2 separate regions of the Homo sapiens genome follow, and region 2 is linked to region 1. Evidence: fine-mapped expression QTL. A gene starts in region 1. The other region holds a variant in brackets. All regions are shown on one strand. Distances are from middle to middle. Region 1 holds the start of NOS1 (nitric oxide synthase 1). Region 2 has its middle 80 kb from the start of NOS1.

Evidence for each region. PIP is the estimated chance that this variant, and not a neighbour inherited with it, causes the effect. A credible set is the group of variants that fine-mapping cannot tell apart.
Region 2: its variant is the best candidate, but not a certain one, in a credible set for the expression of NOS1 in skeletal muscle (GTEx, PIP 0.60).

The regions. Positions count from the first base shown.
Region 1 is chr12:117,359,998-117,362,796 of GRCh38, forward strand. It overlaps NOS1 (nitric oxide synthase 1), which reads right to left and starts at 1,629. Exons shown (of 29, transcript NM_000620.5): 1 at 1,515-1,629. RefSeq lists promoters at 1,130-2,799, 1,130-1,290, 1,515-1,587, 1,754-2,675.
Region 2 is chr12:117,440,227-117,443,025 of GRCh38, forward strand. No RefSeq gene overlaps it. Among named protein-coding and RNA genes, the nearest start is that of NOS1, 80 kb to the left of the region's middle. The variant T/C (reference allele first, on the strand shown) is at 1,293.

The DNA.
Region 1 (2,799 bases):
AAGGTCCTCATGACAGCCCCACGAAAAAGGTAGTTTCTCCATTTTACAGATGAGAAACTGAGGCTGGGAAAGATGAAGAGACTTACCGAAGGTCACGCAACAAGTAAAGGGTCGATCTAGGACCAGAACCCAGGGGAGTCACTGGAAAGGTTCCTGCCCTCCTCGGCTGCCTTCTCCGTGAGAGCCTCTCCTCTCTAGATGTCTACCCCAGACAGCCTGATGCGGAGCTTGGAGAGCCATGAGCTCTCTGGTCACAGTGCCCTGGGGGTGGGGGCGAGCGTCTGGCGTCCTCTGGGGCGCAGTCCCGAGAGAGCCCCTTCCGGGACCTCGGACGCAAGGCCCCTGAGTGGCCCTGGAAGTTGGATCCCCCGGGGACCCTGCTCCGAACCCTGGCCACCTGGAAGCAACCTCATCGAGCGCTCCTTCCACTGCCCAGCCCCGAACCGTGGCGGAACGCGCCCCTCGGCCTCCCTAGAGCCTCCTTTGCGGGAGAAGCACAACTTTCCCAGGTTTTGGAGACGGCGCTCTTACACCCCAATCTCGCCCAGACGGAAGAAGTGAGAGGTGCGGGCGGCCCCGCCATGACCGCGGGAGGAGAGCGCAAGGAGGCTCCTCGCAAAGTTGGAGGCCAGGCCGGAGCGATGTTCCGGGAGCGGAGCCCTCCCAGCCTCGGGCCCCCAGCCGCGGACAGCTGGCAGTGCCAAAGACTCCGCCATTACCTGCGGCTCGCAGTTGCGATTCGGCCGCAGAGTCGGGCACCGAGGAAGGCGTAAAGTTGAGCTTGGGCAGGTACAACGGTCCCCAGGGACTGGCATCCCCCAGCCCGGGCTGCCCGCGGGAGGGTAGCGAGCTGTGCCAAGGGCTCCGCCATTACCGCCAGCGCACAGCTCGGAGCCAAGCGCGCGGCTGAGGAACGACTAGGGTCTTGCAAAGTTGGAGCCTGGGCGCGTAGACCCCCGGACCGGAGCCCCCGGCCTGAGGCCGCCCGCTAGGAGGAAAATGAGGCCGCCCGAACCAAGTTGGGACGCGCAGCAAAGCCCGAGCCTTCCGCGCACACCAGGGGCTCGGGCGGGAGCGGGGAGCCCTGGGGACGGAGAAGGGGCGCGGGACGCCTGGATCAGGAACTCACCTGACGCCGAGCCGGGCAGCGCCGAGGCTGCCTCTTCGCGCTGCGCACCCGCCCGCCCGCCTCGTACTCCTCCTCTTCCTCCCGGGCGCCCGCGGCCGCCGCGCTCCGGGTTCTGAATCCTCCGAGTCCGCCGCCCCGCGCGGCTGGAGGGCGCCGGTTGCACCCACTCGCCTCCTGGTAGGAGCCGCGCGCGTCCCTCCCCTTCCCCTCCGCTTTGTGCCTCCAAGATCCCTCCCCACCCCCTCTCCCCTAGCCCCCACTCCTCCCTTCTCTTCTTCCCTCCCCTTGCGTCCCCTCCCTCAGCCTCAGCGAACCCAAGTTCGGGACGGAGGCTGCGGGCTTCCCCGGCGCAGTGCTGGGCGCCCCGCGCGCGCCCCTGGCTCACCCCGTCCGCTCGGCCGCTGCTCGCTGCCCGGCCGCCCCTCGGAGGAGCCGCGGCGCTAAGTAGCTCCTCACCCAGCGGCTGGAAACGCGGCATAAATATGTAGGGACTGAGCCGTGAGCTCAGCGAGGGTCGTGAGGGGGAATTTATTTCTTAATGTCCCTCCTTTATCCTATCATCACTGAAACGAATTAGCAGTGACGTCCAACCCGACTGGTTTATGGGTGTGGGGAGGGAGACGTCGCAACCCTCATTAAAAGAGCCGCTCTGGGCTCCAAAGCATACATCTTTTATATAACCTAATTTCCATTTTTTTTTTTCTATCAGGAAACACACACACACACACACACACACACATACACACACACACACACACACACACACACACACAATGACAATTTCTGGGAGCCTGGATAGGGCTGAATGTAGTAGCCACGCAGGGCAGGGCAGGTCTATTTGGGCAGAGAAGGCCCCATGGGAGGCAGGGATGGTTATTTCTGCCTCTACATCAGTGTTGGGATAGCATTCCTTAATGGGACAGTGGAACACACAGCCTCCCAGGCTGGGCAGTGCTGGGAGCCCCTCCCAGGAGCCCGCAGAGGTTGCAGCCTGGGTTCTGGCCTTGGCTCTCGGGTGGACAGACGGAGAAAAGCAGCCTGTTCAGGAAATGTTGCCTGGTTCTGGTCTTTTCTGGAGCCACACTCAGGCCTGGCATCTGGGGAGAGTGAAGGATGGAGGGCACATGTTCATCTGTGGCCTGGGAGCCCCACAGGTGTGGAGAGGCCAAGGTCTGGGCTGGAGGAGGGAAGACACAGAGAACGCAGCTTCCCTTCCTTTCTTAGGGGCCCTAACATATGGGTAACCATATAAACCCGACTCAAAATCTGTCTTTTCCTGGGCAGATTGCAAAGGATTTTGCATCTCCCCGTTGCTGTTGCTGCTGCTCACACAGTCTTGGGAAAACGGGGGAAAATCAAGGAAAGAGAGGACACACACACGCGCACGCGCACACGCGCACATACACACACACAAACACACACACACACACACTTGGCACCTGGCTCTGGGTGATTTGATCTTTTCCTCCTCCCCAGCCTTGCCAAGCGGAGCAAACCCACTCAGGCTTCGAGTTGCGCAGAGAAGAGGCAAAGAGGAAAACCACCACCCCCTTTGTCACTAATAAATGCTTTTCAGATCGTCTTGCACATCCAGCAGGGGAGGGGGTGTGTGACTTTGGGGGCAGGAAGAAGGGTGTGGGGGATGAGGAGGGGAGGAAGGAATAAAGAAT
Region 2 (2,799 bases), 80 kb after region 1:
TATCTGACATTGAGTCAGGGATTTTCATGGCCACCTGCAATATAGATAATGTCATCCCCATTTTTGAGATGAGGAAATTGAGGCTTAGAGAGGGGATGCCAGTTTTCAAAGTCACACAGCAAAGTACGGAACGTGGATTTGCCACCAGGTGTGTTGGGGCAGGTTGCCAGGGAAAGTAAAGTCCACTGCTAAAATACAAGCCTTCTTCCCTGACTCACATGTGTTCCTGCTTATATTAGGGCTCCAGGTTTGAGCCACAGTTTGGGGTTTAGGAGAAAGAGCACTGGACATAGAGTCAGAAAACCTGTGCCCAACTTGCTGTGTGACCTTGAGCAAGTTACTCCACCTCTCTGGGCTTGGCTGCAGCTGCTGTGAACCCCAAATGGGACATCACATGGAAAAGGCTTTGTGACTTGGGTTCACAGGGCAGGATGAGGGAGTACCAAAGTAGCCCCACTCTGCCCTGGGAGCCCTTGCCAAAGGCCCCCAACCCTGTTCTTTGTCTTTACTGCCAGCAGCGGGACTCAGCAGTGAGGAGTACACAGGTTCCGCAAGTGCACAGGGTTCAGATCCTGGCTCTGATTTGAGTCTCACAAACTGCGTGACCTTCAGAAGTCATTTTACTCTCTAGTCTCAATTTCTCCTTTCTAAAAATGTGCTCCCGGGCGCTCCCACCCTGCCTGGGCTGCGTGAAAATAAATGAGATAATACTCAGCACCTGCCTTTTTATTCAACAACATTTATTGAGCACCTACGAGACATGGGTCACTGTGCTGGGGATATAATTTTTACAGGAACAATATTCTTGTAAAAACAGTCAGTTGGCCAGGTGCGGTGGCTCACACACTTTGGGAGGCAGAGGCGGGCAGATCACCTGAGGACAGGAGCTCGAGACCAGCCTGGCCAAGATGGTGAAACCCTATCTCTACTAAAAATACAAAAAAATTAGCCGGACATGGTGGTGGGCACCTGTAATCCCAGCTACTCAAGAGGCTGAGGCAGGAGAATCACTTGAACCTGAGAGGTGGAGGTTGCACTGAGCCAAGAACATGCCGTTGCACTCCAGCCTGGGCAACAAGAGTGAAACTCCGTCTCAAAAAACAAACACACAAACAAAAAAAACCCCAAAAAACCAAAGTCAGTCACTCATGCCCCTGTGGTGGAGACAGACAAATGTAAAACCCCCACAAAAATAAATATTAATTCCTTGTGTTATGTGCTCAGCAAATAGAAGTAGCTATTATTGTTGTTGTTCACGCATTTATTCCACAGAAGAACTCACTGAGCACCTA[T/C]TATGTGCCAGGTACCCTTCTAAGCATTGGGGATATAGCAGTGACCAATGCAGACATGGCTGTCCACTTTAATAATTAACCGTGACAATAAATAGCAATAATTAGCCATGACAACATATAACAATAATAATTATTATATTACTATTCTCAGGCAATGCAGGTTCTCCCCAACACATTGGATGCCCTGGTTTTCTCACTGGTAGAATTACATACCTGTCTGCTGCCATCTGGCCCTCTGGGAGCTCCAAGCTAGAGCATGGGATTCCAGAATGTTCTTAGGTCTGATCCTCAGTGAAGCTCATGGGCTCTTTTTGGTCTGACTTGCGGGCACTCTGGCAGGCGCTCATCCCCCTGGCATAGACCCAGACCCCACGTGGGTTGGGAGAAGCTGAGCCTGTGACTCAGCCAGCCTGGCTTGTCAAGCAGAGATGAGAAGGGAGCAAGCAGCTGGCTGGGCTGTTAGCCATGGGGCCCTCCCAAGCCAGGCATAGGGCAGGTGCCTGGGGGACAGAGTGGGGCTTTGAGATGACAAGGGAAGGGCTCTAAGCTCAGGTGACTGCACCCTGGTGGTGGTGGCTGTCTCTAGTAAAGATAATTTTTTTTAGAAGGAGTCTCGCTCTGTTGCCCAGGCTGGAGTGCAGTGGCACGATCTCTGCTCACTGCCACCTCTGTCTCCCAGGTTCAAGCAATTCTCCAGCCTCAACCTCCCGAGTAGCTGGGATTACAGGCATGCACCACCATGCCTGGCTAATTTTTTTGTATTTTTCATAGAGACGGGGTTTTGCCATGTTGGCCAGGCTGGTCTCAAACTCCTGACCTCAGGTGATCCACCTGCCTCAGCCTCCCAAAGTACTGGGAATACAGGCATAAGCCACCACGCCTGGCTAAGAATATTCTTATAAGAATCACAGAGTATGCTGCCTTGTGAGCGAATGAGCTTCTCATCAATTAAATAACTCCAGCAGGATGCTATAAAGGGGACTCCAGAATTGCCTGTTCATCTGTCAGATGTATCCACCAGACTGAGCTCTACCTTCTGGGTCTTGTTTACACCATCATACCTCCAGTGTGTGGCACAGAGCACATCACATAGCAGTCGGCAAATATTTCTTATATTCATATATGCACAGATCAGAATGTTCTTTCTGGCTTTGACCACATGAGACTTTGACAACAAGTAGCCCTGCCATTTTATTCATTTGTCTCTTCATTCAACAAATATATCCTGAGCACCTACTATGTGCTGTCTCCTAGGCACTGGGGATATAGTAGTGATCAAGACTGATAAAAATTTCTGCCTTCGTGAAGTCTACCGTCTCACGATTGGAATTTCATTTTTATTTTTTAGAGACGGGGTATTAGTCTGTTCTCACACTGCTCATAAAGACATACCCGAGACTGGGTAATTTAGAAAGGAAAGAGGTTTAATGGACTCACAGTTCCACGTGGCTGGGGAAGCCTCAAAATCATGGTGGAAAGTGAAGGAGGAGCAAAGTCACGTCTGACA